Homo sapiens: one gene and its partner. The protein of the gene in region 1 purifies or fractionates together with the protein of each later gene. This does not show direct contact. Each region holds a gene or a part of one and is shown on either strand. Other genes may lie near its edges.

Region 1 (3,824 bases):
ATTTTTAAAAAGTATATGAAACATAACACCGTGGTATATAATCTTATGTTTCAAGGATATAGAGGTCACTTTCCCAAATGTGTGTTCTGAAAGAAAAAGACCCCAAAAGGTACACAGTAAAAACCAAGTATTTCATTTGCTTTTAAATGAAACTGTAGTCTTCTTTCCAAATAAAGCAATTGCTCCATTTCAACCATTTTTTACACGTGTGTTTGATGTGTTTGTTGTGTTTCAACTAAAAAAGCAGGAGAATAAAATTTTCTTGGATCAAGTTTTAGCTAAAGGGCTGGGGGTGGTGTTTCTCTGCAGTGAGGAGTGATAGAAAGTTGGCCTAATGAGTGAGAAGATCACAGAGTTGCGAGAAGCAATAGATAAAACAGCACACAGTAGTAAGGGACAAGCAATTGAAATGCAAGAACTGTAAAAAAAAAAAGATGTAGTCAGAATCCAGTAAAAAGGGCTAGCAAATATATAAATAAATATGGTACACCTAGTATGTCTAGTCAAAGACTCCTAACAAGGCAGAATGTGAACTTACAGTAAAGGCTTTCCAAGATGAGGAAACCAGGGTGGAGGCTCAGGATAATGCCAACACTAGGCAAAGGACTAAAGTCAGGAGGCTCTCACTCACCCTGAAAGAATAGTGTGTCTTTAGTGGAGCTAAGGTACCGCCAAGGGACCTACTAGTGAGACCCAGTGATGACTCACCAGGCAAGCAGGCATTTTGTGATTAGACAAATAAGACAACCTAAATGGGTTGTTGTTCCAATTTTACAGATGAATTGTTCAGATACAGGCTGATTGAAGAGCATCAACCCTTACCAAACTAGGTAAAATTTACTGATTCTAGACTATCAAAGGGAAATCAGGGGTCACATAATGAGGCTACATGCTCTCTCTACTAGCTATCAAGCTTTTTGATGTAGTTATTAAAAAGTTATCATACCAAAACACTGTGCTAGGCATGAAGGAAAATAAACAACTGTATAAAACTTGGTTCCTACAGTTGAGGAGGTTACAATTCAATACCTATATATGTATATGATAATATGGTTCAGTAGTAAGTTTGAATATTGACTCCACCACTTATTAAACTTAGGAATTTGGAGTAATTATTGAACTTCTCTGCTTTTCAAGTCAACCTTTCAGGGCTGTTTTTGGAACTAGAGACAACATATATTAATAGCCTAGTACCTACCAAACCCTCAATAAATGGTAGCTATTTTTTGTGCTCATACACATAAATTATTCTCAGTTTTACTTTCTTCAGATAAAAAAAAATTTAAGAATTAGAACAGATCCATCAGTTAACTATTAGAATTTTAATAATTATAACTTAGAATTTTAGAGAAATAGCACTCATTCCAAGTTGACTTCTACATAAATATAGTTCTATAGATAAAGCCTGGTGTGCAAAGAGAATGACATTGTAAAGTCCCATGTTAAGATAAAGAAATGAGCTGGAAAAGAGGTTAAATGAGTTATCCGTTAATGAATTATCATAGGAAATATTTAAAACTAAGCATGAAATAAAAGAATGCAAAGAAATAAAGAATAACTAGAAATGTAAAATAATTTTCTCATGGGAGATACTTTAGCTGATTTTCCCAAAGAAGGTGACTCTAAACCGTGAAATAAATCTCTGAAAGAGAGAGCAAGTTAAAAGGAAACTAAGATTAATGCCAATATCTCTTAAACAAAACAATCATGGTAAATCTAGAACTCTTATCTCATGTTTTGTTTTGTTTTTCCATTACCCCACAAACTTACTAATTAACAGCACAGATTCTGATGTTGCAGTCCCTAACTTCAAATCCCAGCACTGGCACTGCAGCACTTTTTGACAAGTTACTGTACTCCGTACATTGAAAGGGGAATAATATTAGTACCTATCTTATCACATTGTTGTGACAATTAAATGAGTTATGTGCAAAGTTCTTAGAACAGTGCTTATATATAGTAAGTCCTAAACAGGTATTATCAGACGCAGGTACATCATCAGCATCACAATCATTATTACAATTATTATTATAGTGAGCATAATTCTGAGAAGCATCTTAAATAAAGCTTTCATAGAGACAAGAAGAAATGATTCTTTTGCACAATGATTAACTTGATTGTGATTAGTTAATTTGCTTGGTAAGAATACTATGCCAATTTATTCAAAGTCAAAGGTTTGATTCTCCCCTGGGTCTGCTGGCTATATTTCATAACAACAGATTTATCCTAATACTGACCAGCTTATTCTATGAATTCTGGTTTTAACGAAGTGGCTGGTGAAGAAATTGATCAGCCCAAATTAATGAATAATATTAGATAAGTCTATAAATACATCCCTACTGATCTTAGATTAGTCATATTGTCTTAATATATTATAAATTCTAGGACTGGAAAAATGTTTAAAGATGATGTGGAGCCAAATATTTTATTTTAATAGAAAAAAATAGGCTCCAAGACAAAAAGCTACTAAGTAAATAAGATCATATAATTGCTTCATGGCATAGCTAGAACTCTTAGTCCACGTTTTGTTTTGTTTTGTTTTGTTTTTTCATTACCACCACATTTTTTCAATATATAATATTTTTATTCTCTATGAGAACTTCCTTTTTTAAAAGTCCATTTTTCTATCAGTATAGTTCATTATTCCATTCTCAGCAGCTCATTCCAAGTGGTCAAATATGGAGCTTTGAAGGCCTTTGTAATGACTTTGTTATGAAATAAATAGGGGGTCATTTTAAGGCATTAGGCATGTGAGGTGATGAGTGACACTACTTGACTTAATTTCTTAGAAGATCACTTTGCCTTCTATGTTAAGACTAGATGGCCAAGAGGTCCGATTCTGAGGTTATCACAATAAGCCAAGGGAAAATGATCGTGGCTTGGACCAGGATGATAGCAGAGGAAGTGGTGACAAGTTGTCCACATCTGAATATGTTTTGATGGTAGTGTCAAGACGAGTTCCAGACACATTGCATGTGAAGTGTGAGAGAAAGTAACAGACATGGAGACGAGGGCATGTAGGTCTTCATTTAAAAAGTCCTAATTTTTTTTTAACCAAATCTCTCCTGCTGCTATCTACACCATGATTTACTATATGAAAAGAAGTTCATGACCACCTACACAATGCCCTTCTTGTGACTCTGGCAGTAGCCAGAATCATACCGTGTGTTACGAAAGAAACCAAACAATGGCTTCTGATCTCAAAAAACTTCAACATTTGGTAGATAAAATCCCTTAGAAAGGGAGGGAGATATATTTGACAGCATTACTAATGTAGCTAGAAGTTGTAGCTTGAGGTTAAACTGTAGCTATTCTGGACATGTCTGCTGACATGAGGGAACCAAGCCCACATGTCCATTGACATGAGTGACAGAGCAGCATTTAGGATAGAATCCATCCCCGATAAAGAGAGGGAATCAGCCACCTGAAGGGAAGGCTACTTCTAAGGATGGCATCGTCTCACTACTTGGCTCTGTCCCCAGCTCAGCTCCTTATGAACTCATATCTGAATGTCATGGAAGGGAGAGAAAATTGTGAGCCAAAAAATTTTAAAGGCTGCTTTCATTAAAATTCTCTAAGATTCGAGATTAAACGCCAACACCATTTTGATAGACACTCGTGGAAAGTAGCCCAGAAGAACAGAGAGACACTTTCCTTCACTTGGCAAAGAGTATGGTATAGCTTTGTCATCTCAATGATTCCATGCATCAGTGACCGTAACTATTAGCACAGAAAGCAGTGTCCTCAGAAGCTCAGGTGTTCATTGAGACAATAGCTCCCTCGGATATGTGGAATCCAGTAGAGGTGGGGCAGGTAAGAGGAAT
Region 2 (3,824 bases), on another chromosome or scaffold:
TCTGCTAGCATTGTGATCACGACCATTCAAATCATCCCTTAAAAGATTCAGTTGCTCCTTACAGCTCTTGTCTTCTGAGCTTTCACCAGAATTACCCTTAATGCTCCATTTATGGCAGTCTGGGCATTTTTTAGCCTGCTCCTCCAAACTCTTCCAGCCTATACCTGTTACCCAGTTCTAAAGCTGCTTCCACATTTTCAGGTATTTGTTAGAGCAACAACCCCACTTCTGGTACCAATCTTCTGTCTTAGTCCATTTTGTGCTGCTATAACAGAATGCCTGAAACTGGGTAATTTATAAAGAAAAGAAGTTTACTCAGCTCACATTTCTGGAAGCTGAGAAGTCCAAGATTGAGGGTCTGCATCTGACAAGGGCCTTTTTTTCTGGCTCATCCTATGGCTGAAGGGTGGAAGGACAAAGAGCACACTCCCTAGAGAGAGAAAAGAAGGTGGCCAAACTCATCTTTTATAAAGACTCCACTCCTGTGATAATGAAGCCACTTCTGCAATTAATGGCATTAATCCATTCAAGAGGGCAGAGCTCTCAGGATCTAATTACCTCTTAAAGTCCCACCTTTCAACATTGTTGCATTGGGGATTAAGTTTCCAACACATGAGCTTTGGGGGACACATTCAAACCATAGCAACATCCAAACTCAGCAGCAGGTCCTTTTGGCCCTGTTCCTAAATACATCTCAAAGCCATATGCTTCTCCTCAATTCCCATGCCGCCAGCTACAGCATCCCACCCTCATCTGCCTGGATGGCTAAAATAGCCTCCTGCTGGTTTTCTTGCCTTCCATCATTCCCTGCTGCAACACATTCTCCACACAGCAGCCTGAGCTATCTTTTAAAAACAGCAATTCGATTATATTATTCCTTTGCTTAAAATGACTTCCCCTCGTACTTAGGATAAACCCCAGAACACTTGCTGCAGCCCTCTCAGCCCTAGGTCTCTTCTCTGACTGAGCCGGCCTCTCTCGGGCCTTCACCCCTGAGGCTCCTTCACACTAGCCCTCTCTTGCCACTCTTGCCTCAGCACCTCTCCCCGATGGTGCCTTCTGCCTAGAAGGCTCTGTCCCAGATCTTTCCCTGGCTGGCTCGTTGGTGGTCCTTTGGCTCTCGGCTCATTTTCTCATCCTCAGAGAGGCTGCCCTGCCCACTCACTCTCTCCTGGGGTATCCTCTTATTTCGCTTGGTAGGTCTTTTCACTCTCTAAAATGATCTGGTTTATTTGTTTGCATATCTATTGCCTGTTTCTCTGTCTGCAGAATGATATTTTCATGAGTCTGTTCTCTTCTATATTCCTGAACCCTAACACCTAGAACCTGGCACCTGATAGGTGCTCAATGAATACCCCTTTAATAAATGAAAGGGTGAGTCTCAACTGCCTGATTGCCCCCAGCAAGAACAAGACAGCAACTAAATACCTAGGCAGCACATGCATGTGAACAGGTCATTCTGATGGCTCAGAAAGAGCTCAGACTTTGCAGGAGGAGTGAGGCTCCCAGGCAAAGCACAATGGCATCCTCACAACTACTTAGTCCAGGGAGATTTGCCTGGAGCAGGAGAGGCTTGCCTTCTGGGCCCTAGCCATGGCTCCTTTCTCCTGCTCCAAGCTTCCATCCCCCAATCCTCACGTGTTCTCCATCTCCCAGAGTGGCAGAGCTGGGTCCAATATGGGCTTTGCACTTGGACATACTGGAGTCTTAGAAATTCTTTTCCTGCTTTTTCCTGGCAGAGTGGCCTTGGACATGTTTTCTAATCTCTCCAAGTCTCAGTTACTGCAATTAGGAATTGAGAATAATGACACAGGTTGAGTATCCCTTATCCAAAATGTGTGGGACCAGAAGTGTTTCCAATTTTGGATTTTTTCAGATTTTGGAATATTTGCATTATACCCGCTGGTTGAGCATCCCTAATCTGGAAATCTGAAATGCTCAAATGAACATTTTTCTTTGAGCGTCTTGTTGGCATTCAAGTAGTGTTGAATTTTGGAGCATTTGGGCTTTTGGATTTTCACATTAGGGATGCTCAACCTGTAGTATCTAAGTGATAGGGTTGCGCTGAAGTATCAATAAAACCATGTCTATAAAGTCAGTGCCTAGGGCTGGGCGCAGTGGTGCACGCCTGTAATCCCAGCACTTTGGGAGGCCAAAGCAGGAGGATCACTTGAGCCCTGGAGTTTGAGATCAGCCTGGTCAACATAGTGAGACCCCCATCTCTACAAAAACACTTAAAAATAGCTGGGCATGGTGGCACACACTTGTCCCAGCTACTCAGGAGGCTGAGGTGGAAGGATCTCTTGAGCCCAGGAGTTCGAGGTCACAGTTAACTGTGATTGTGCCACTGCACTCCAGCCTAGGAGACAGAGTGAGAGCCTATCTCTTAAATAAATAAATAAATAGTCAGTGCCCAGCACATAGAAATAAATGTTAGCGCTTACCAGCATTTTTATTGTTGTTATTATTGATCAGATAACTATTATTTTCAAGCTCCTTCCTCACTTAGCCCCCAGAATCTCCCACCCCTCCTATGGCAGCCCTGCCAGGGTGTCCAGGGAAGAACCAATGGCTTTCTCTGCCCTGCCCTATTTGGACACAGGATTTGCAGACTTCATTCCCTCATTTCCACCTCTAAACCATACTGACACTCTTGCAGCAGCTATGATATGAAATCCTTTTCTGTTCAGCCACCGGCTCTTGCCAACACTGAGAGGTTCAATGGGAACCCTCTTCCATTTCTCTCCTCAAGTGATCCCTTTCCCTCTCAGGGTCTCTGTAGCCCATTGCTCCGGGGACTCAGTCTTTTCATGTTATCATCATCAATGAGAAGTTCCGACTAATAAACTAATTCATACTATGGAGTTCATGTTATTTCAGCTTTTAAAAATAACACACAGGTGGGCGTGGTGGCTCATACCTGTAATTCCAGAACTTCAGGAGGTCGAAGTGGGAGAATTGCTTGAGCACAGGTGCTCGAGACCAGCCTGGACAACACAGGGGGGCCCCTGTCTCAATAAACTAAATAAATAAATAGCCCACAGAGAAGGCAACTCTTAACCCAAAGGAACGTCTCATTCCTTGTGGGATTTTATGCACTTTGAAGGAGATTCTGGAGGTGGGGCTCTCCCTGGTTCCCTCAGGGCTATTTTTTTTTTTTTTTTGAGACAGATTTTCGCTCTTGTTGCCTAGGCTGGTGTGCAATGGCGCGATCTTGGCTCACCACAACCTCCGCCTCCTGGGTTCAAGCAATTCTCCTACCTCAGCCTCCCAAGTAGCTGGGATTACAAGCATGCACCACCACGCCTGACTAATTTTGTATTTTTTTTTAGTAGAGATGGGGTTTCACCATGTTGGCCAGGCTGGTCTTGAACTCCCGACCTCAGGTGATCCACCCGCCTCGGCCTGCCAAAGTGCCAGGATTACAGGCGTAAGCCACCGCGCCCGGCCCCCTCAGGGCTATCTTTAAGGTACTGTCTGCCCTGCTGGCCTGTGGACGGGGCCCCTCTTGGTGTTCTCCCGTCTCTGTTCTGTTGCTCTCCCATTTGTGCCTGCCTGAGCTGCACACTCCTGAGAGCAGCATCTCCCTGCTTAGCTCCCAGCACAGCCCTCGGGGATGCTGTGGACTTGGGAGGGGCATTCCCAAGAGTCAGAGGCACCTTCCACACACCCTTACCCCATGCGTGCCCCAGGACTTGCAGCCTCTGTTTCCTTTCCCACGTGTAAGGATAGGTGAGCTTCTCTCCTGGCCTTGGGAGGCAGCCCTTCCTGTGAGAGCCTGCCCCACCTCAGCCAAGGTCTTGGGTCCAGCCCTTTCCCACCAG

What was found.
Region 2: the proteins of GRM1 (region 1) and ADORA1 purify together in Homo sapiens (affinity purification with western blotting, with the first as the bait; one study listed by BioGRID). This does not show direct contact.

The regions. Positions count from the first base shown.
Region 1 is NC_000006.12:146,161,540-146,165,363, reverse strand, and holds part of GRM1 (metabotropic glutamate receptor 1 isoform alpha precursor), read right to left. Parts: intron 1-3,824. UniProt on the Homo sapiens protein: G-protein coupled receptor for glutamate. Ligand binding causes a conformation change that triggers signaling via guanine nucleotide-binding proteins (G proteins) and modulates the activity of down-stream effectors.
Region 2 is NC_000001.11:203,158,425-203,162,248, forward strand, and holds part of ADORA1 (adenosine receptor A1), read left to right. Parts: intron 1-3,824. UniProt on the Homo sapiens protein: Receptor for adenosine. The activity of this receptor is mediated by G proteins which inhibit adenylyl cyclase.